3 separate regions of the Homo sapiens genome follow, and regions 1 and 2 are each linked to region 3. The links come from fine-mapping of genetic effects on gene expression. A gene starts in region 3. Each other region holds a variant in brackets. All regions are shown on one strand. Distances are between the middles of the regions. Region 1 overlaps LOC102724104 (a long non-coding RNA gene). Region 2 overlaps SCN11A (sodium voltage-gated channel alpha subunit 11). Region 3 holds the start of CX3CR1 (C-X3-C motif chemokine receptor 1).

Region 1 (8,185 bases), 29 kb before region 3:
AGACACAGACCTACCTAACTCTTCATAGACAAAGTTTGCCTCACTTCTGCCTTAAAGATGACTAAAGAGACATGACGATCAATTGTCAATGCAATGTTGAATCTTGATTGGATCCTAGATTTTTTAAAAAGCTATAGGGGAAAATTTGGGTATCATTGGATTGTACATTAAGTGATATTACTGAATCAATGTTACATTTCTTGGGTGTGATAATAATATTGTGGTTATGTGGCAGGAGTCATTATCCTTAGGACACATATGCTAATGTAATTAGGAGTAATATATCTGTCACTTACTCTCTGATAGTTTAGTCAAAGAAAAATCTCTTTCTGTCTCTTTTTCTTACTCTTTCTTTCTCCTCTCACACAGAGAGATCAAACACAGGTGGCAGAATGGTAAAGTTGCAGAATCCAGATAAAGGTTATATGGTGTTTGTTGTAGTGCTCATTTAACTTCTTAGCTTTACCATTTTTAAAATAAAAAGTTGGGGAAAACGGTAAAAGAAACTTTCTTAATTTTAATTCTTAATCTAGTTAAATATTCCAGCAGTCAGTTTTCAGCCTCTTTAAAGTGGTTTGTTTAATTTTTTCCAAATGTGAAAGTCGATCTTTCTATTCCCATAGATAGAACAATAGTTCTTGTTCGAGAGGGAGAGAGCTGGGTGCTTTCAGCCTATGTGAGGCGTCGGCAACACCAAGCAGGCTGAAAGGGAAGGCTGCCATGATGTAAAAACACTCAGTAATACCCAGTGAAGATGAATTCTCTACCTTTCAGTTCCTAATTTTTAGTTTTGAATCTCAAGGAACGGACATTTCCAAATTAAAAACAGCTTCGTGGGCCGGGCGCAGTGGCTCACGCCTGTAATCCTAGCACTTTTGGAGGCCAAGACGGGCGGATCACGAGGTCAGGAGACCCAGACCATCCTGGCTAATACGGTGAAACCCTGTCTCTACTAAAAATACAAAAAAATTAGCCGGGCGTGGTGGTGGGCACCTGTAGTCCCAGCTACTCGGGAGGCTGAGGCAGGAGAATGGCGTGAACCCTGGAGGCGGAGCTTGCAGTGAGCCGAGATCGCGCCACTGCACTCCAGCCTGGGCCACAGAGTGAGACTCCCTCTCAAAAAAAAAAAAAAGAAAGAAAAGAAAGACAAAAACAAAAAACAAAAAACAGCTTCATGGAAAGAGTGTGGCTGGGTAGTAATGTGGTACTATGTTCAAATCCCAGCCTGGGCCACTTTCTACTGCTAGGACATACGTAACAATGATCACCCTCACCACTACCACAAACAGTGTGCGTGGAATTTGTGCCATGTGCCAGGTCCAGGTCTAAGAAGTTCTCAAATACTAATTCATTTAATTCTTACACTGTGAAGTTAGCCGTTATTATCACTCTCATTCTACAGAGGAAGAAACTGAGACCAAAAAGTGTGAAGAGCTTGCCCAATGTCTCACAGCTGGTGGGTGGAATGACTGGGATTTAAACCAGGCAGTGTCCTTGGGAGCTCCCACCTGTCACCACTGCACCATAGGCTCTTTCAGATGGACGTGGGCTGACTTTCCAGAACTGGAATCTTGTAACTTGGGCCTACTATTAAATTTCTGTCTGGATTCATCAGGCACCCAACTTAGCCATCATGGCCATGCCATCAGATGTGGCTTTTAAGGATAAGAGTTATGGTAAAGGCAACTGGCTGGTGGTTGGGTTTTGAGAAGAGGCCAGTCCATGGACATATTGATCTTTAATGCCCTCAAGCAAAGCATGTACATAGTTTACCAAGAGTGGTTACCCTTATGATTGGACCATTGCAGATGTGGTATCTGTAAGGGCAACTTTTGAAGGAATCAATCCCAGTCCACAAAATGAGAGATGCTTTATAAGGGATGAAATAAAGTTTCATTGAATTTAGTTCTGGGTGGCAGGTAGGTCTGCTAGCAAGTTCCGAAAGACCAGCCGTTTTCTTTGAGTTATATGCGCCTGAAACTCCTCCTCGTAAACATCTGAGGCTCACTCACACCTCAGTGATGAACTGCCACCCTCCTCCACTGAGAGCAGGAAGAGAGCACCCAGAGTGGATACCATGACAGCTCAGCCAAACAGGCTCTCTGCCAGGAGGGCTGAGGCAGGAACCCGTCACATAGACACTCTCCAGGAATGAACTCAGGAAAGATCATGCACTTGACTTGGTCAACCTGAAGTCATACCCTAAAACCTCTTTGTTAGCCTCTTGCAGGTAACAGCCACCACAATGGTGTGACCCGAATGATGCTGTGACTAATTTCTCAGACTTTCAGGACTGCCCTGTGGCTGGGTACCTATCACCAAAAGCCATAAAGGGCTGCAGACAACATTGCTAAGATTACTTTAGCACAATGCCTGTATTCAGCAGACACACACAGATGGTAGTTCCTTTCTTTGAGTCAGTTTGTGCTGGGATGCTGACATTTCCCCAGACGATGCCACCCTTTTGGGTGTGCATAATTTCCTAGACTGTCTCATCCTGGGCCATGTTCCTTGAATTAGAAATAGAAGGGAGGGGGTCAGGTCATCCTTCAGGGTGCACAGCTCCTCTCGTGTCCCATCAAGGGTAGCAGTGTCCCTGCTGGAATAGCCCCTCTTAGTCCTCTCCTCTTAGAGCCTCGGAAACTTAATTTCAGAATAAGACATGGCTTCTTCTATTCATTTTTAGAAAGGTGCTATTTGGATTTTGCACATAGCTGTGAAAGTAAAAACAGGATTTATAATGCTGGAGATTGAGGAAGAGTTTTGCAACTCAAACCTCAAAGGAGAAGTATTGGCTTCCTCAGCTTCCCCCTGACAAGGGAGATTAATGTCATTCCACTATGCTAGTGACTAGCCAGCAGAGGGAATTAAAATAGATCTTTGTTGTGCCGGGCAGGAGGAACAAATGTTGGAAGCTCCTAGAGCTGCTCTCTTCTCAGCTCTCTTCTCTGCTCTCTTCTCTCTTTAGGAGCTGACAGGTGAAGGCTGGATGCTGATTAGCAAGGGCTTCCTAGCCTCCTGTGGGAAGTAAGCCAGGGTGGAAGCTCAGGCACAGGTCCTCTAAGTAGGGGGGATGGCTGTGGTTCTGAGGGAGACTCCTGCTTGGCCCACACTTCCTGAAGGTTCAGTGTGGGGAAGCAGAGGCATATGGAGGCATCAGCCTCGGGCCTTCCCTCACTCACATTTAGGGCTGCACACGGTGCCCCACCCCACCCATCACCCACCCCCCCTGCCCAATGCCATTTCTCCCCTCCGCCTACCCCTCTGTGGCCTTTCCCCTTCCTGGAAGGGGACTGTGGCTGGAGGGCAGATCTGAGAGGAGACCTAAAAAGAAAGAAAATAGGAAGAAAACGAGGGGGAAAATAATAAAAACAGGAGGCTTATTGAAGGAGGGAGGAGCAGGGGAGAGTGGGAGCATGGGGAGCAGACAGTTTGTTCCAGCAGGCTGGATGTTGGGAGGAATATGATGGGGGCTCAAAATAAATAAGACTAGCTCTATTCTCAACACTTCTATCAGAATTAGGCAAATCCTTAAATTCTGTGACAGCCCAATGGCAGATGTGAGAAGGTGCCCTCAGAGCTCCTCAGAGCTCCGACTGTCAGAAGAACTTGACCGTTGTGCCCTGAAGTTGCTTCCCATCGAGGGACTCAGCATGGCAGTTCCAATCCTGGGAGACATCACCTGAGCTCCATGACATCCCAGTGGCCTTGCCAAAACTTTCCTTCCATCTCTTCCACACAGGGAACAGACCTGTGTTGTGGTCTGGAGGCTTCTCAGCCTCTCACAGCCTCCCTTTTTCCCTCACAGGTGTTCTCCCTAACACATCTCTCATACGTCCAATTCCTTCCCATCTTAGCACCTGCTTCTTGGAGGAGCCAAAACAGCAGAAACCCCAACACTGGGCACCATTGCTATGTTTATTTTACAGATGGGAAAATCAGGGCACAGAGACATTAAATGAATTGCCTCAAGTTTTGTAGTCAGTACATATATGGTGGAGCTAGGAGTTGAAACCACCTGCTTAAGTCTCATGCTACTCTTATTACCATTTTTCACATGGAGAAGCTGAGACAAGTTCAGAAATAAATGCACTGTCCCTTGGCTATTGTGGCTCAAATGCCCCAGGATACTAACGGGGCCCAATGAACACCAAGCCTCCGTCATCTTGAGTCTCCAGTCTCCCCTGAGTAAGGACAGCATCTCTCTATACCTTTCTGGAGTGAGAGGGCAGCTCACAGGTGTTCAGGGCCAAGTCCATGCCCTCCAATGGCATCCTACACATCTGCCAGGCATCGGGCGTCTCCTGCCTGCTATCACATCTCTTCCTGGCTCCCAGCAGGACTGTCTATGGTACACTCCAGTGACTGCAGACTTCCTGAGACTCCAAAACCACCATAGCCTTGCTGGCTTTCACGCAGTTCCAGGGAGTTCTCAGAGGTTCTGGGGCAGGTTTGGGGCCAGATACCTCCTGCTTCTTTTTCTCCACACTTTTCACATCACTGGTCCCAGATACCTTTGCACAGAAGTGGCTTCCTTAGCTACATGCCAGTTACCCCCAAGAAGACTACATTCTGCTAACCAGGGGACAGCTGCCTGGATTTAGGAGGGCTCAGATGAAACACTCTGCACAGCTGGGAAGTGCTGGACCGAGATTGAAGCCTGGGTCTGCCTCCATGTATAACAGCCCTGCTCTTCTGCTCCTCTGCTATAAGCAGAGGAGGAAAAACCTGGAAGAGAGGGAAATCATAGGAGTTAGGACACAAAGTCATGAATGGAGGTGGGGACAGTGATGCTCTTTGACGAGGAGAGATAAGGAGACTGGAGAGAGGGGGCATCTCTGCAGATGTCAGGCTCCCCTCATGAATGGTCCTGAGGGTGGCC[A/G]TGGGCCAGGAGGGCATTTGACTTGTCTGGCTGTGTGAGGGTTGTTTGGGGAAGGTTCTCTCTGAGACTTGGGGGCTTTGCCCACATGTCAGCAGGACCTTTCCAAGTCCCCAGGATCACTGCTCTTTCAAGCAGTCACCAACCTTCTTAGCTTGGTCTCACCCACCCAGTGACTTGTGGCTTCTCCCAATAGCTTACTGAGTTCTCATGGGGCTTCCTTCTTATTCTTAATACTTCCACATCGTTAAGCCCAACTGCCATACCCTCCATGAAACTTGGCCCTTCTCTTGGTCCTAGGAAGGTGTGTGCATGTGCGTGTGCATGTATGTGTGTGTGTGTGCGCACACACAGACCTACGGGCTCTTCCAGCCAGCCCCATGGACTGCTGGCCAGCCCCCAGCACAGGAGGACTGATGGGCCACAATGGCGATGGAGGGGTGAAGGCCTCCAGCCAGTGCTGACAGTCTTTTAAGGAGGTGACAAGACAGAAAGGAGCTCCAGCAAAGGTGATCCCATTTCCTCTCATGCTGTGGCCTTGGACCTGGAAGGCCTGGGGAGGAGTGGCTGGGAGGATGCATGGTGAGAAGCTGGGGCAGGAGACTCAGGTGTGCAGGCGGTCACCAGGCAGTGCTGGGGAGACCGGCCTTGGTGCTGGCAGTGGAGCTAGTGGCGATAGTAGCGTGCAGAGTGAGGGCAGGGAGAGGCTATTGACAGAGGGTCTGGTTGAAGGACAACAGGGAGGGGGTGACTCTGAGGGTTGACTGTGTGAAGTGGAGGATGAAGAGGACTTGGGGGCTACTTTTGCCTGCTGCTTCCTGTGCCTCTGTGATTACTTCTTTCTCCCCCCGCCCCCAGTTAGCATAGCGCATCTGTGGGATTCTTCCAGTCTTGCCTGGTCTCTAAGGCTCCAACCACAGCACCTGCATTATCTAATTCTTCCACCTGAAACCTTCCTCTTTGACCTCCAGAGGCTCTGCCATGCCCTGTGGCACACTGGCCCTCTCTTTTATCGCTTCTTTCCAAATTCATCCACATCTATCTGACACCTAGTCTTTACCATGCCCTGTGAAGCAGGACAAGTCACAAAGAATTTTAACTTATTTTTTTCTGGTTCTACCTTTTAAAGATCTAAATTTCTTAGGCAATGCTAAAGAGGAGGCTTTCCCCTTTCCTCTCCTTCTAGACGATAAACAGATTTCCTGGGCAGGAGGAGGCAGGGGGTGGGCAGGGCAGCTACGAATGTATAGACTCAGGTGTCACAGAGAGCGAGGCCCTTCTCTGCCTCTTGGGCAAAGCCCTGCAGTTGCTGCAGCACCCATGATCATCTGTAGGATCCAGCGGCAACAGGCCTGTGCTCTGCTCCCTGGGCAGAGTCCTGGGAAGGAGCAGACCCCAGAGAGAGAAGAGGTCTAGGCAGATGGCCATAACCAGCGTTTTGGAGAGGCCCACGATGTGGTGTGGCATGGGTGCAGCAGAGTGACTCCGGCCTGCAGCGTGGCATGGGAAAGTGGGCACAGTAGTTGGACCTGAGGGCCAAGCCAGACAGGAAGAGGGGCCAGACCACCTATGTGGCTCGATGGCTGTGGTATAGGTGGGAAGGTGGATGTCTGGTGAACACCTGCGTGGCAGCAGGGGATTCAGGGAAGGGTAGTTACCAGCTTATTGCAGGGAGCTGCAAGGAGCAGAAAACCCAATAGAAGGTGGTATGAACAAGTGGGAGGCTTTGTGACTCTTGTGCTAGGAAGTCCTGCATGGGCAGCCCAAAGTGGTTGCAGCACCATGACACTGTCTCCTGGCACCCAGGCACTTGAGGCGTGTTTTCTTTACCATTTGCTATGGTTTGAATGCGTCTACTCCAAAATCCAGGTGTTGTCAATGTGATGGTATTAAGAGGCGGGGGTCTTTAAGAGGTAATTATGCCATGAGGGCTCCTCCTTTGTAAATGGGATTAAGTCTCTTATGAGGCTTCATGCAGCGTTTGGCTAGCTTGGTGGCTTGTCTTTCTGTCATCTGCCATGTGAGGACATGGTAAGAAGGCCCTCATCAGACCAAATGCTCATGCCTTGTCTTGGAATTCTCAGCCTCCAGAACTGTGAGAAATAAATTTTTGTTCTTTTTATTTATTTTTTTATTTTATTATTATTAGTATTATTATTATTTTGAGACAGAGTCTCGCTCTGTCGCCCAGGCTGGAGTGCAGTGGCACAATCTCGGCTCACTGCAAGCTTCGCCTCCCGGGTTCATGCCATTCTCCTGCCTCAACCTCCCAAGTAGCTGGGACTACAGGTGCCCACCACCACGCCCGGCTAATTTTTTGTATTTTTAGTAGAGACGGGGTTTCACTGTGTTAGCCAGGATGGTCTCGATCTCCTGACCTTGTGATCCGCCTGCCTCAGCCTCCCAAAGTGTTGGGATTATAGGCATGAGCCACAGCGCCCTGCCAAATTTTTGTTCTTTTTAAATATCCCACTCTATGGTATTCTGTTATAGCAGCACAAATGGTCTAAGAAACTATTCTTTTATTAGGAAAAAAATAGCAAATTGTGGTTTTAGATTTAAGAGATAAATTTAATTCATGCAAATGATTCATCCTATAAAGATGAGTCATAAATACCAAAGAAGTGCATCCTTTTTTAGACATGTTTAAATATAGTCCACAAATACCAGTGCACTGCTAACTATAGCTACTCCTACAACTTCAAGTTATCTCCTACTCAGCCAAATGTCAAAATTTTACCAGTGAAAACTTAATCACTATTTTTCTTGCTGCATTAATTTCACCCCAACAAGCCTTTAGTACTTTAGTAATATTTTGTGCCATCTGAATAGCAGCAGCTGAATTTACCCAGCACATGCCACTAAAGCCAGAAGCCATGTATTTTGAAGGGCCCACTCAGGTTCATCACAGAGCAGAATGACACCTCTTGCCTCCTCAACTCTGCATCCTTCATATTCTGCTTCTGTGCAAAACTGTGTTGACGAAAAAGTACATATAACTTTAGGTCCTGCTTCAGCCCCAAGATAGGTTTAAATCTGCGTATGCTGCTTAGGCATTCCTGGGGATACCTGTGTGCATGAGGCCTCAGGCTACAAATCTTCATCTCATTCTTCTCCTGAAGAGGGAAGAGAAGTGAGGAGTCCATGGGAAGGTTTCTAGACACTAGAGTTAAGGCCACCATGCTGTTTCATGCACAAAAGATGGGAGACAAAGGCTGGAGGAGCATGAGCTCACCTCAAGGTGAAAGACAGGCCAGGGACATTGGGTTGCAGGCTATAGAAGGGTTACACATGGGGCAAGGAAAG
Region 2 (8,185 bases), 240 kb before region 3:
AAAACCACCGAAGCCCAGAATTTCAGAGAATGGAAGTCTAAAAAATTGTTTTAAGTGGGTCATTAGGTATAATATCCCTTTGTTTCTGAATCTATTTATTTTGCCTATGGCAGTGTGATGGTTTTAAAATACATCCACAAACACACAATGAACCCTCTCCTGCAGACTCCCTGGGACCTAAGCTGTCACGGCATGGTACCATTTTGGGAAAGAAGCCACTGCTGAAGTACATCCTGCCCCAGGATCCAATGGCCCTATGTCTCCAATATCCCTGGGGCCCTGCGGTCATTCCACCATGCCCATACAGAAGACTGAGTGCCAGTATCCCAGCCAGACCTAGCAGTAGAGCCATGACTCTAGCACTAAAGCCCACATAGCACTCTGTGCTCCAGGAAGCAGGTAGTCCAGCACAGTAAGGAGGTCACCCTCAGGAGTGAGGAAGCCAATGTGCCTGGCCAGCCACCTGGTACCCACCGCTGCCAGCAACCCTATCCCCTCCAGTGATGAGGCTGCCTTATGCATGGGCACCCCTAGAGACCAAAGATCAGCCCACCTAGAGGCTGTCACCACTGGAGACCCTGCCCCCTCCAGTGGCAGAGCTACCATGTACCTGAAACAGTTCCCAGGGACCAAGGACCTGCCCACTTAGCACCCACTGCTGCCAGCAACCCTGCCCCATCCAGTGATGGAGATATAGCATGTGTACATGTCCGCCAAGGGCTGAGGACTGGTCTACCTAGCACACACCACCTCTGCTAACCCCACCCCCTCTAGAGGTAGAGACATCACGTGCTGTGTTCCTCAGGGCTGGTGCCCACCTGGTGCCCACCACAGCTGGCAATGGCATCCTATAATCAGTAAAGCTGTTGTTCCAGGCAAGCACCCTCCCATAATCCAAGAACTGGCCACCAATGGACACTTACCACCAGCAAAACTACACTATAGCCTCCATAAATGTCAACAGTCTATGCCACTGTGGCACTCAAATACTGCTCATGCTGTTAAAAATCACACAGAGACTACATAACTGTTATTGCTTCTCAGCCTTTTGTCTAAGATCGAGTGTGGAGATTATACTACTGCACCCACTCAGAACCAAAGCCAAAGCACCTTATGCAATCAACACTACAGGTCACAACTACAGGAAAAAAGTCTTTCCCAATGAAAGCTACTCCATGAAATTGGAAGAGGTGACTATTTTACCAGATGCACAGAAATCAACATAGGAACACAAGAAACATAAGAAAACAAGGAAACACGACACTGCCAAAGGAACACAATAATTCTCCAGTAACACATTCCCCAAAATGAAAGCTATCAGATGCCTAAAAAGGAATTGAAACTAATGAGCCTAAGGAACCTCAGCAAGATACAGGATAAATACAGACATACAAATGAAATCAGGAAAACATTAATGCTCTGAATGAGAAATTCAACAAAGAAACATATATTATTTTTTTAAAAGAACCAAACAGAAATCTTGAAGCTAAAAGATTCTGCTAATGAAATAAAAAATACAATAGAGAGCTTCAATAACAGACTAGATCAAGAAGAAAATAATTTCTGAAGGCCGGGCATGGTGGCTCACGCCTGTAATCCCAGCACTTTGGGAGGCCGAGGTGGGCGGATCATGAGGTCAGGAGATCGAGACCATCCTGACTAACACGGTGAAACCCCATCTCTACTAAAAATACAAAAAAAAAATTAGCCAGGCATGGTGGCGGGTGCCTGTAGTCCCAGCTACTCGGGAGGCTGAGGCAGGAGAATGGTGTGAACCCGGGAGGAGAAGCTTGCAGTGAGCTGAGATAGCGCCACTGCACTCCGGCCTGGGCGAAAGAGCAAGACTCTGTCTCAAAAAAGAAAAACAAAAGGAAAATAATTTCTGAACTTGGAGACAGGTCTTTTGAAATAACCCAGTCAGACTAAAAAAAGAAAAAAGAATTCAAAAAGAATAAAGAAAGCCTACAGTACTTACAGGACATCATTAAGCAAACAAATATTCACATTCTGAATGTTTAAGAAGGAAATGAGATGAAAAAGGAATAGAAAACCTATTTGATGAAATAATCACTGAAACCCTTCTAAGACTTTGGAGACATATGGACATTGACATCCAGGAAGCTAAAAAATCTTCAAATATAGTCAACCCAAAAAAGTCCTCTCTGAAGCACATTATAATCAAATTGTCAAAAGTCAAAGACAAAGAGAGAATTTTTAAAACAGCAAGAAAAAAATGTCAAGTCACATATATGAAAATCCCCATTAGACTAACAGCATTTTTCTCAGCAGAAACCTTACAGGCCGGGAGAGAATGGGATGATATATTCAAAGTGCTGTAAGAAAAAAACTGCCAAGCAAGAATATCAAACCCAATAAAACTGCCCTTCAGAAATGAGGAAGAAATAAAATTTTCCCCAAACTAAAACTGAGGAAATTCATCACCCTAGACCATCCTTACAAGAAATACTTAAGGGAGTCCTACATCTGGAAGCAAAAGGATGATAACCACCATCATGAAAACACAAAAGTACAAAACTAACTGATTGAAAAGATACACAAATGAGAAAGAAAAATAAACTTTATCACTGCAAAGATAAATTAGAGAAAGAAAAGAACAAAGAATTTCAAAACAACTAGAAAACAATTAACAATATGACAGAAAAAATATCATATTTCAATAATAACCTTGAATGTAAATGGATTAAATTTCCCAATTAAACAATATAGACTGGCTGAATGGATTAAAAAAACAAGACCCAGGCCGGCACAGTGGCTCATGCCTGTAATCCCAGCACTTTGGGAGGCTGAGGCAGGAGGATCACTTAAAGTCAGGAGTTTGAGACAAGCCTGGCCAACATGGTGAAACCCTGTCCCCACCAAAAATATAAAAATTATCTGGGCGTGGTGGTAGGCGCCTGTAGTCCCAGGTACTCAGGAGGCCAAGGCAGGAATATCGCTTGAACCCAGCAGGTAGAGGCTGCAGTGAGCCAAGATTGTGCCACTGCACTCCAGCCTGAGAGACAGAGCAAGACTCCATCTCCAAAAAAACCCAAACAAACCAAGAGCCTATTCTGCCTATAAGAAACTCACTTCACTTGTAAAGACACACATAGACTGAAAGTGAAAAAATATAAAAAAGAAATCCCAATGAAATTTCTACAAGAAAAACATTGGGAAAACACTCCAGGACATTAATCTGGGCAAAAATTTCTTGAGTAATACCTCACAAGCACAAGCAACCAAAGCAAAAATGAACAAATGGGATCACATCAAGATTCCGCACAGCAAAGGAAAAAATCATCAAGGTGAAGAGACAACACACAGAATGGGAGAAAATATTAGCAAACTATCCACCTAATAAGAAGTTAATAACCAGAACATATAAGGAGCTTAAACACTTCTATAGGGAAAAAAAATCTAATAATCTGATCAAGAAATGAGCAAAAGGTCCAGGTGCAGTGGCTCACGCCTGTAATCCCAGCACTTTGGGAGGCCGAGACAGGAGGATCACCTGAAGTCAGGAGTTCGACACCAGCCTGGCCAACATGGAGAAACCCTGTCTCTACTAAAAATACAAAATTATTCAGGCTTGGTGGCGCATACCTGTAATCCCAACTACTCGGGAGGCTGAGGCAGGAGAATCACTTGAACCCAGAAGGCAGAGTTCGCAGTGAGCCGAGATCATGCCATTGCACTCTAGCCTGGGCAACAAGAGCGAAACTCCATCTCAAAAAAAAAAAAAAAAAAAAAAGAAAAAGAAAAAAGAAATGAGCAAAAGATCTGACTAGACATTTCTCAAAACAAGACGTACAAATGGCAAACAGGCATGTGAAAAAGTGCTCAACATCATTAATTATCAGAGAAATGCAAATCAAAACTACAATGAGATATTATCTCACCCCAGTTAAAATGGCTTTTATCCAAAAGTCAGACAATAACAAATGTTGGCGAGGATGTGGAGAAAGGAGAACCCTCGTATACTGTTGGTAAGAAGGCACATTTGTACAACCATTATGAAGAATCATTTAGCAGTCTCAAAAAACTAAAAATAGGGCTACCATACGATCCAGCAATCCCATTGCTGGGTATACACCCAAAAGAAATGAAATCAGTATATCAAAGAGACATTTGCACTCCCATGTTTGTTGCAGCGCTGTTCACAATAGCCAAGATTTGGAAGCAACCTAAGTGTCCATCAACAGATGAATGGATAAAGAAAATGTGATACTTATACACAATGAAGTACTATACAGCCAAAAAAAAAAAAAAAAACCCAGAATCCTGTCATTTGCAACAACATAGGTGGAACTGGAGGTCATTATATTAAGCGAAATAAGCCAGGCACAGAAAGCAAACATCACATGTTCCCACTTATTTGTGGGATCTAAAAATCAAAGCAACTGAACTCATGGATACAGAGAATAGAAGAATGGTTACCAGAAACTGGGAAGGGTAGTTGGGGGTGGGTGGTGGGGAGGTGGAGATGGCTGATGAGTACAAAAAAAATTAGAAAGAATAAATAAGACAGTATTTCATAGCACAACAGGGGGACTACAGTCAATAATACTTTAATTGTACATTTAAAAATAATTTAAAAAGTATAATTACATTGCTTGTAATAAAAAGGATAAATGCAAAAAAAGAAGGATAAATGCTTGAGGAGATGGATACCCAATTTTCCATGATGTGATTACCATGCATTGCCTGCCTGTCCCAAAAGATCTCATATATCCCATAAATGAATACACCTACTATGTACCCACGAAAGTTAAAGATAAAAATAATTTTTTAAATGCCAAATGTAAACGCAAACAGAAACCAAAAACAAGCAAGAGTTTTTTACTTTAAGTCAAAGACTGTAAAAAGAGAAAAAGAATGTCATTATATAATAATAAAGGGATCAATTCAGTAAAAGGGTGTAACAATTTTAAATATATATACACCCAGATATATAAAGCAAATATCATTAGATCTAAAGGGAAGACAGACTCCAATACAATTAAGTTGGGGATTTCAA[T/C]ACCTTTGACCAGATAATGTAGACAGAAAATCAACCAAGAAACATCAGATTTAAACGGCAATATAGACCAAATGGACCTAACAGACATTTACAGAACATTTTTTCTAACAGCTGCAGAATACACATTCTTTTCATCAGCTTATAGAACATCCTCCAAGATAGACCATATGTTAGCCCTCAAAACAAGTCTCAACACATTTTTTAAAATCAAAACCATATCAAGTATCTTTTCTGACTACAATGAAATAAAACTAGAAATCAATAATAACAGAAACTTCGAAACTGTGCAAATACATATAAATTAAATAACATGCTCCTGAATGATAAATATGTCAATGAAGAAATTAAGAAGGACATTTAAAAATTAATTGAAACAAATGAAAACAGAAACACAACATACCAAAACCAATGGGACACATCAAAAGCATTACTAAGAGGAATGTTTATAACAATAAATGCCTACATCAAAAAAAGCAGAAAGATTACAAATAAACAAACTAATGATGCACGTCAAGGAACTACAAAAACAAGAACCAACGAAACTCAAAATTAGCATAAGGAAAGAAATAATAAAGATTAGAGCAGAAATAATGAAATCGAGACAAAAAATACAAATCAACAAAACAAAAAGTTTTTTGAAAAGATAATATCCACAAACCACTAGCTAGAGTAATTTTAAAAAAAGAGAGCAACAACCCAAATAAATAAAATCAGAAATGAAAAAAAACAACTGTTACCACAGGAATACAAAAGATCATTAGAGACTATTATGAACAACTATATGCCAACAAGATGAAAAGCCTAGAGGAAATGAATTCCTGGACACACGCAACCTACCAAAATTGGATCGGGAAGAAATAGAAAACCTGAACAAATCAATAACAAGTAATGAGATTGTGGGAGAAATAAAAAGTCTCCCAACAAAGAAAAGCCTAGGACCATGGCTTCAATGCTGAGTTGCACCAGGCATTTAAATAACTAACACCAATTCCTCTCAAATTATTCCAAAAAATTGAAGGGGAGGGAATTCTTCCAAACTCATTCTACAACCCCAACACTACCCTAATGCCAAAACCAGGCAAAAACACAACAAAAAAAGAAAGCTACAGGTCAATATCCCTGATGAACATAGATATAAAAATTCTCAACAAAATATTAGCAAACCAGATCCAACAACACATCAAAAGGATTACACATGATGATCAAGTAGATTTATTTCAGGGATGCAAGGATGATTCAACATATGCAAATCAATAAACAAAAGATACATCACATCAGCAGAATCAAGGACAAAAACCAAACGATCATCTTAATCAATGCAGAAAAGGCATTCGATAAAATTCAACATCCTTTCATGATAAAAACTCTCAACAAAGGAAGTATAAAAAGAACATACCTCAACACAATAAAGGCCATATATGACAAACCCACAGCTAGTATCATCTTAAACAGGAGAAAATTGAAAACTCTTCCTCTAAAAACTGGAACAAGACAAAGATACCCACTTTCACCACTCTTATTCAACATAGTATGGAGAATGCTAGCTAGAGCATTTAGGCAAGATTAAAGAATAAAGGGCATCTAAGCTGGAAAGGAAGTGTCAAATTGTCACTGTTTGCAGATGATATGATCTTATATATAGAAAACTTAAAGACTTCATCAAAAAATTCTCAGAACTGATAAAGAAATTCATAAAGTTGTAGGATATAAAATCAATATACAAAACAGTAGCGGCCAGGCACAGTGTCTCACTCCTGTAATCCCAACACTTTGGGGGGCCTAAGCAGGAGGAACACTTGAGGCCAAGAGTTCAAGATCAGCCTGGCCAACAGGGCAAAACCCTGTCTGTACTAAAAATACAAAAATTAGCTGGGCGTGGTGGCACGGGCCTGTAATCTCAGCTACTCAGGAAGCTGGGGCATGAGAATCACTTGAATCTGGGAGGTGGAGGTTGCAGTGAGCCGAGATCAGGCCACTGCACTCCAGCCTGGGCAACAGAGTGAGACTCTGTCTCAAAAAGAAAGGACAGAAGCAAGGAAGGAAGGAAGGGAGGGAGGAAGGGAGGGAGGGAGGGAGGGAGGGAATGAAGGAAATTATAAAACTCTGATGAAATAAATTGAAGAGGACATACACAAAAATGGAAAGACATCCATGTTCATATACTGAATTAATATTGTTAAAATGACCAAACTACCCAAAGTGATCTACAGATTAAATGGAATCCCTATCAAAATACCAATGACATTCTTCATAGAAATAGAAAAAATAATCCTAAAATTCATATGGAACTACAAACGACCCCAAATAGCCAAAGCAATCCTGAGCAAAAAGAACAAAATTGGAGGCATCACACTAACCTCAAAATATACCATACAAAGCTACACTAAACAAAACAGCATAGTACTGGCATTAAAAAAGACACATCAACCAATGGAACAGAATAGAGAACCCAGAAATAAATCCATGTATTTATAGCCAACTAATGGTTTTTTTGAAACAGGGTCTTGCTCTGTCACCCAGACTGAAGTGCAATGATGTGATCTCTGCTCACTGCAGCCTCAACCTCCTAGGCTCAAGCAATCCTCCCACTTTAGCCTCTTGAGTAGCTAGGACTACAGGCATGCACCACCATGCCCGGTTAATTTTTGTATTTTTTGATAAAGACTGGTTTTGCCACGTTGCCCTGTTTGGTCTTGAATTCCTGGGCTCAAGCGATCCACACACCTCAGCCTCCCAGAGTGCTGGGATTATAGGTGTGAGCCATTGCACACAGCCCCCCACCCCCCACCCCCACCCCCATCCCCCCACCCCCACCCCCACCCCCTTTTTTTTTTTTAAGACTGGGTCTTGCTATGTTTCCCAGGCTGGAGTGCAGTGACTATTCACAATTGTAGTATACTGCAGGCCTCAAACTCCTGGGCTTAAGCAATCCTCATATATCAGCCTTCCAAGTAGCTGGGACTACAGGCATGTACCACCATGCCTGGCAATTAACTGATTTTTAACAAAGGCCCTATAACATATTGGGAAAAGAACAGCCTGTTCAATAAATGGTGCTGGGAAAACTGACCCCCTATATGAAAAGGAAAGAAACTAGACTCCCTACGTCTCACCCTATACAAAAATCAACACGAAATGGATTAAAAACCTAAATATAAAACCCAAAAC
Region 3 (8,185 bases):
CCTACAACGTGGATGCATTTTAAAAGTTTAGTCTTGAGCCAAACCAAAAAGTATGAATCCAAATATGAAGATCAAAAATAGGCAAAGCTAAGCTATATTGTTTAGGGATGATATTTAGATTCAGTCAAACTATAGGGAAAAGCAAGGAAGTGATCACCATAGAAGTCAGACTTGTGGTTCTTTGTGGGAGAGGAAGAGGCTGTGGTCAGGAAGGGACATGAGAGAGGCTTCTGGGGTTCTCTTTCTCAGCCTGGATGGTAGTAATGTGGGAAATTAAATCTAATACTTTGCTAACCCAGACATTGTTCTTTCAGTGTGTTGTATTTTGCAATAAACAAAATACAACACACTGAAAAGAGACTTTCCATTTTCTCCTTAAGCACACTTTAAGGGGAAAACAAAGGTGGTCTAGGAAGATGTTTAAAGACATATGATACAGCTTTTCTTCCTTACTCACAAGCTAAAAAGCTGCACTTTGGCCAAACAAGATGAGGGGGTCGAAGCATCAGCTGTGGCCAGCGTGCCGTGAGAATCCCACCTGTGAAGCAGCCAGCAGATTCTGAGCCCCTCAAGAGGGCAGGTGGGATCAAGGTTCAGCTAGAAGCCCCAACTTTCCCCTGGCTCTTCTGGGCAGAGTGAGTGATGCCAGAGAGCCCAACTTCTCGGAATGCCTGGGCTGTGCTGCTAGGAATCAGAACAAGTCCTTGGGAAAGGCAGCCAAGATCTGGATTCTGCCATTCTGGTTCCACTCCCTCCTATGACCGTGACCTGCTGTGGAGCAGCAGAAGTTCCCCTCCTTGTTCAGCTCCTCCATTACAGGTGCTGGTTCCAAACGTCTCTGGACTCAGGATACTGGGTCAGAGGCTGGGGCTGGGGAGGAGCAGTTGGATGCCTGGATCCCAAGAAGGAGGTTTTTTGAGGCTAGGGTCTCTGGCTAGGGAGAACCATACCTGACATTGCCACTGTGCCATAGCTGCCTAGGGCCGGGCAGGCTTCCTCCTGGGATGGGGTGGGGTGAGGAAGGGGATAGACGATCGTCCTGACTGGGTCAGCTCTAATACGTTCTTTGCTTTCCTGCCCCTACAGCTCTGGATTCTTCACAACCTCATTCAATAGTAGTCAGTGTTTTTCAGGTATCCAAACTTTCTGAGGCTCAGTTTCCTCATGACAACAACATATATCGTTTCTTGAGCATCAAAGATGGGTCAGGCAGTGTGTTTGGGACTTCCTATACCATGCCTTTAATCCTTGCAGAAAGTTGACACATACCCATTACATGGCTTCAAAGGCTGATGGACAATCTCCATTTTAAAAGCAGGAAACAGACTTAGCAAGCCCAGTGCACAGTCACCAAGTGCAGAGCCAGGACTTCATTCCTGACTTCATTCCTTCATTCCAAAGCCAAGCTGCCTATGTCCCCATCTGTGAAGTGGGGCCAGCTGAGGAGCAGGGTTCAGGAGCAGACTTTGTGGAGACTGGCACGTGGCTGATGGATAGTAGGTGCTCCCATCCCAGAGGTGTGGCAAGTGCCAGGTAAGCCTGAGCACTAAGAAGAACCACACTGAAGTTGGGCTGAGACTATTTCCTGCCCTGCCTTCCTTTGTGAAAATAAAGCCAAGCAAAGAGGAAGATGAAAGAATCCACCCTAGCCTTCCTGAGCCCATTTCTCATTCCCAGGGGTTTTGAACCCCAATCCACTGCCCCCATTCCCAACCCACAGTGGTCCTCAAGGCTCTCCAGCACAGGTCCGTCACCCACCCTGCCTCCTCTCAGGAAACCCAGCTCCCTCCAAAGCGCCCTCTGGGCCTGGGATGCCCTGAGCAATGCAAGCTTTCTTGCCTGCTTTCACGTGGTTCAATTTTCCTTTTTTTTTGGCTCAATTTTTTTCTGCCTCAAGTTTTCTACCTCAAGTATTTCAAAAATTAATTTTTTTTTCTTTTCTTTTTTTTTTTTTTTTTTGTGGAGTGGGTGTTGAAAGAATCCTAAACTTTCTTAGCCATTCTCTGGACTGAGCTATAAACTCACAAAGCAAGGATTGCAGGCTCTGTGAGGCTGTGATTGCCAGAGGCAAGGCAAGAGAAATAACAAGCCGTGGTCAGTCCTCAGCTGGGGCCTCTGATGGATTTCCTCCTGTCTTGCACTCATAATTTCTTTCTGAAGACCATGTTTTCCACCCACACAAACCTGAGCCTGAGTATCCTCACAATGGTTATAACAACATATATCAAAATTGAACACTAAATTTGTGCCAGGAATTTATTAATGGAGAAACCCCGCCTCTACTAAAAATACAAAATTAGCCGGGCGGTGGTACATGCCTATAATCCCAGCTACTTGGGAGGCTGAGGCAGGAGAATCACTTGAACCCAGGAGGCAGAGGTTGCAGTGAGCCGAGACTGTGCCATTGCACTCCAGCTTAGGCAACAAGAGCAAAACTCCGTCTCAAAAAACAAAACACAAACAAGAAAGAAAACCCAAAAAACAAAAAACAAACAAAAACCCATAGATGGTACAAAAAGTGGAAGAAAAAGGAAAAAAAAACCCATGAAACTATCTGCAATGCAGTTTCCTAGAATCAACCACAGTAATCTTTTAGCTTTTCTCTATCTAAATGTTATACATATTTTATATTTATATTAAGTGCATTTATATTTATATTAAAATACAGATACAAATTTAAAAACTCTTTATTATTAAATTTTCAAATAAAAAGCAACTTTTCAAATAAAAGCAGCGAGAACCTCCTTATACCCAACACCTGGCTTCAACTATTAGCAACCCATGGTCAATATTTCCTCTATTTCCCACTTAATGTCTCTACTGAATTATTTAATTTCACCCATAAACACTTGTGTGCATCTCTAAAAGTTAAGGACTCTTTTTTGAAAAAGACTTTAATACAATTTCTCATCTCAAAAAATTAGCAATAATTCCTCAACAGCATCCAGATGCAATTTTTCATGCTTTTTTCAGTTAGTTTAAAATCATGAGCTTTTCTCCATGTCTCTAAAATGTAATTACTAATGCTTCTAATACTATTCCACCAGGTTGAGTGTATTATAAATGATCTGATCACCCCTTGCCTCCCACTCTTCCATCCCCTTGGACATATTTAGGCTACAACATCCCCAGGAAAATGGTTTCCATTGTCTGCACGTAAGCAAACAGGCATTATTAACCTATTAGCTGTCCACTGCTCCACCCCACCCACAGGTACCCAACTAGTCCTGTGCACCTACCTGGCGTGGACTGCCAAGGGAACCTCTGGATCTGCCAGTCAGCCACCCTGTCCTGCTCAGACTTTACCAGAGACGAGTATTTCCCTTTCCTTCCCTCTAAGAGCATTTTATTTGCAGAGTTAGCCAATAGTATCTTGTTTCCTGTAAGGGAGACTATCTTTAGATGCTGCCACAGGCAAGCTCAGATACTCCAGGGTGGAGGCCAGCTGCCAACAGGAGGGCCTGACTTTATAAACCTGGAAGATCTAAACCTCAGGGAAGACTGCGGAGCTGGAGGGAGAGAGGTGCCACTTACCCCAACCTGGAGGTGGGGGGCAGGGAGCAGGCCCTGCAGTCAGCAAAGCACAGCACAGTCAGCTCTCATTAATGGGGAGCCTTCAGGAAGCTGGGAGAGCTCATGGGGCCCTCAGCTTCCCTGCCCACGAGAGGGAGCCCAGAGTACTCACTGGACCACACTGGGGCACACACAGCTCTTCTCCTCAAAGTGCAGTCCCAGGCACTGGGAGCTTATTAAAGACAGCACCTCAAGCCCTGCCCTATATCTGCTGAATTAGAATCTGCATTTTAATGAAATTCTTAGAAGAGTGATATGCATACTAAGTTTGAGAAGCTTTGGTACTGAAGGCATCTAGTGAGTACCTTGCACCTTGTAGATGCTCGGTAAATATTTTTTTCCTCACCTCTCTGCCCCAAGGCATTTAGTGGCTCCCTATACCCATCAGTCAAGGCTGAGGACACAGCTTTCACCCAGGACCTGGCCTATGCTCCTTTCACAGTCTCTCCCCCTGCCACTCTTGCCCTGCAGTGGGGAGCCTGGTGGGCTCCGGCATCCAGCCATGCTTCTGCTCCCTGGCCTGGCCAGCTTGGGGCGACTGCAACGTGAATCTCAACTGCCACTGCCTCATCACCTTCCGATCACTTCATTACCTGCCTGACCCCTGGCATATGCTATATAATTCTGATCCATCCCTAACTAGGGCCTGGCCCATGGTGGCCTTCAATACACCTTCATTAAATGGTCTGTGACCCCTTCAAGGCCCCTCTGGCCCCTTGCTGCCCACATCCCAGCCACATCCGGTGCTCCCTTACCTCTAGTCGCTGTGGTGTTCCGAGGACAGCGGGTGCTCTGTGTGCTCCCCACCTTGCCCCTCCTCACCTCCCCCAACCCCAGGACAGAGCTGGGGGCTGCAGTGCAGTGCTGCGGGCTTGGTGGCCTGCTCATGGTGGAAGAAGTCCACCAGCAGTTTTCTTTCTTTGTTCTTGGTCTCAGTGTTTGGCCACCTTTCCCTGCCTTTGGCCAGAAGGCCACAGGACAAAAGCAGAGTCAGGCCGCTCCCCATCCACTTTCTGACACTGGCCCCTCCCCACCCCACACCACCCCTTGATACCTCTCCTGGGGTCCACTCAGCTGGGCTGGCTGCCTCAGCCCCTTCCTTGCCTCTGACTCCCCTCCTCTTCTGAGGGCTCCTTTCTTGGATCTGGCCAAGACTCTCCCTCTCTTCCTGTCCCACACTCTTGACGACAGTCTCATCCACCCCACATCAGTAATCCCCTCCGTGTTCATGAGCACACATCTCTACCTCCATCCAGGGCCTGGATAATTTCCCAAGCCCATCTAACCTTCTCCGTTCTCTGTCTTTCCTCTCACCACTTACCCCACTGGCCATTCTCCACCCAGAAGCCAGAGAGCTCTTCCTGAAATCCAAGTCTGCCAACTTAAACGCCTCCAGGGGTTCTCTCATCCTGGTTTAAGTCCACGGCCTGGTAAGCACGGCCCGCCCCTTCTCACTTCCTACTGTGCTCTCACCACTTCCACTTCCCCCAACATGCCTGTGCCCGTGGCAGGCTCTCTTCCCTTCCCAACTCACCTGGCTGTCCTGTCCAGGACGTGATTTTACCCTCTTTTAAAGCTAACGGCTATGTTCCACAGCTGCTAGCAGCACAGGGCTTCATGCTTGGCAAGCATGAGAACCAGCGTCCAGTGTCAGTTGCCTTGCCCCCAAGCCCCACAGAGTGATGCCATGGCTTGGATAGATACCTGTGAATGTGTGAGGGATGGGGAGGTTATAGGAAGGGAACTCTGACCTTGGGTAACGTGCCATTTTATAGCAAGCAGTAAGCAAGTCGGTTATTTGGCCCTGAGCGAGATGTCAGCTCATCCTTCAAGGTTGCTCACTGCAAACTCAACCCTGCAAGATGGACCAAGTGAAGAGCATTAGTGCTTTGCATTCTTGACACACTCATGGAGACAGAAAGAGCCTTGGCAGCCTTCCCCCTCCCTCCACGCCTCCTTGGGCCTCTGTAAAGGAGTCTCTGGCTCAGCGCTGGGAATTCTCTCCTCCCTGAACTCTTGTTCAACCCCTCCCCCGTACTCTCACTCTGGTACAGCCTTATTCCTTAGATCCCCGTCTTCATCTCTCTTTCTGCCCAGCCCCTTTGGCTTCACTCTCTGTTGGAGCTGACCCTTGTTCACAAGTTCTTTGTCATTCTGCATTTCTCTTCCAGTTGAGACAGTAAATGCAGAGGACAGTTTGGTTTCTGCTGGGCAGAGAAATGAGAGTGTGGTGGGCTGGCTCAAAGGCAGGAGGCCAGACAGAGAGGCTGTGAGGATGGTGGGGACACCCTGGACAGTGATGGGTGTCCCCACCCATCACTGCAGGCACCCATCACACAATGCAGGCAAGGACTGGAGACTTGGTGTGAATAAAGCTTTGTGGGAATGTGGGGTAGAGATGCAGAAAAGGAGAGTGAGAATGTGATTCACCTTAATTGCCAAACCAAGATACTTCCATGTTCTTCTGTGGGCCCTGGAGAAATTTGGGAATAATTACATAAGCAGTTGTGCAGCACTAGGTCTGCCTGAGGCAATGTCCTAAGTCCTCGATGTACATGAACTCATGTAGTGCCCCCAGTGACCCTATGATGCAGGTGCTAATGTTTTTGTTTTTGTTTCTTTCAGACAGGGTCTGGCTCTGTTATCCAGGCTGGAGTGCAGCCACATGATCATAGCTCACTGCATCCTTGATCTCCTGGGCTCGAACGATCCTCTCACCTCAGCCTCCCAAGTAGCTGGAACTACAGGCACACATCACCACACCCAGCTAATTTTTGTATTTTTTGTAGAGACAGAGTTTCGCCATGTACCCAGGCTGCTCTTGAACTCCTGAGTTTGAGTGATCCTTCTGCCGCAGCCTCCCAAAGTGCTGGGATTACACGTTTAAGCCACTGTGTGTGGCCGCAGGTACTATTATTATCCTCATCTTATATGTGAGGAGTTTGAGACAAGGAGGAGAAGTTATGTAACTTGTACAAGACCACACAGCTCATGTGTGGTAGGGCCAATATTTGAACTTAGCATTGAGGTTTTATGGTCTATGCTGTGCATTCTTAGTAGAGGTGGTATTACTTCCAAGGTGGCGAAAATTGGTTCTGGAAGGTTCTTGTGCTTTATGTATAAAACACAGATATACATATAGTAGCTAAACCAATAGCATATCTGTGGAATAAAATTCCATGGTAGGGGGAGGTGAGTAAGAATGTAATGTGGGCCAGGCATGGTGGCTCACGCCTGTAATTCCAGCACTTTGGGAGGCCAACGTGGGTGGATCACGAGATCAGGGGTTCAAGACCAGCCTGGCCAAAATGGTGAAACCCTGTCTCTACTAAAAATATAAAAATTAGCCAGGCGTGGTGGCGGGTGCCTGTAATCCCAACTACTTGGGAGGCTGAGGCAGGAGAATCGCTTGAAACCGGAAGGTGGAGGTTGCAGTGAGCCGAGATAGCGCCACTGCACTCCAGCCTGGGCGAAAGAGCGAGACTCCATCTCAAAAAAAAAAAAAAATTATATATATATATATATATATATATATATATATATATATATATATAATGTGGTTAATAGGCACAAAAAATACTTAGAATAAATAAGACCTAGTATTTACAAGCACAACAGGGGCACTATAGTAAAAAAAATTTAATTTACCTTTACAAATAACTAAAAGAGTATGATTGGATTGTGTGTAACACAAAGGATAAATGCTTGAGGTGATGCATACCCCATTTCCTCTGATGTGATTATCACACGTTACATGCCTGTATCAAAGCATTTCATGTAACCTACAAACATATACACACGCTATGTACCCCGCCACACACAAAAGAATATAATATCTAAAAGGACTTGTTGGGGAGTGATTAAAAAAAGCTGAGAAACCATTGTCTAAGTTTTTTTTTTTTGTTTGTTTGTTTTTAGACAGGATTTACTCCCATCACCCAGGCAGAAGTGCTGAGGTCCGCCTCCTGGGTTCAAGCTATTCTTCCACCTCAGCTTCCCGAGTAGCTGGGATTACAGGAGCCTGCTACCACATCTGGCTAATTTTTGTATTTTTAGTGGAGATGGGGTTTCACCACGTTGGCCAGGCTGGTCACGAACTCCTGACCTCAAGTGATCTGCCCACCTTGGCCTCCCAAAATGCTGGGATTACAGGCGTGAGCCACTGCGCCCAGACAAGAAACCCTTGTCTAAGGTCTTAATCAGACCACTCTGCTACCTCCCAGTTTAAAGTCTGGGGATTAGAGGGTGACATGACAAAAGTAGTCTCTTCAGAAAAATCAATCAATGGGTGGGTGTGAGGGAAACGGCTGCATAAAAGGGAAGGAAAAGACGTACATCAAGGACTTCTCCATGCCAGGCCCTGTGCGAGGCACATTGTCCATTATATCTCTTTTTTACTTTCACTTTCTAGTCAGGTATTATTTTTTCCATTTTCAGATGATGAAATGGGGAGAAAAGAGCAATGAGTCCTAGGCCACACAGCTGAAAAAGGGTCAAGTCAGGATTGGAACTTCCTGCCCAGATGCAGGCAGGGAACAGCAAGAGGGGAGCCAAAGCAGTGGGTGGTGGAAGACGGAGAAGGGATCTCGCTACAGGAAAATGCATAGAATTG

The links. PIP is the estimated chance that this variant, and not a neighbour inherited with it, causes the effect.
Region 1: its variant is fine-mapped to the expression of CX3CR1 in whole blood (TOPMed, PIP above 0.99).
Region 2: its variant is fine-mapped to the expression of CX3CR1 in whole blood (INTERVAL, PIP above 0.99).

The regions. Positions count from the first base shown.
Region 1 is chr3:39,247,471-39,255,655 of GRCh38, forward strand. All of the region lies in intron 2 of LOC102724104 (a long non-coding RNA gene), which reads left to right. Among named protein-coding and RNA genes, the nearest start is that of CX3CR1, 28 kb to the right of the region's middle. The variant A/G (reference allele first, on the strand shown) is at 4,883.
Region 2 is chr3:39,039,229-39,047,413 of GRCh38, forward strand. All of the region lies in intron 1 of SCN11A (sodium voltage-gated channel alpha subunit 11), which reads right to left. Among named protein-coding and RNA genes, the nearest start is that of SCN11A, 8.6 kb to the right of the region's middle. The variant T/C (reference allele first, on the strand shown) is at 5,018.
Region 3 is chr3:39,276,715-39,284,899 of GRCh38, forward strand. CX3CR1 (C-X3-C motif chemokine receptor 1) reads right to left here and starts at 3,322. Exons shown (of 2, transcript NM_001337.4): 1 at 3,240-3,322.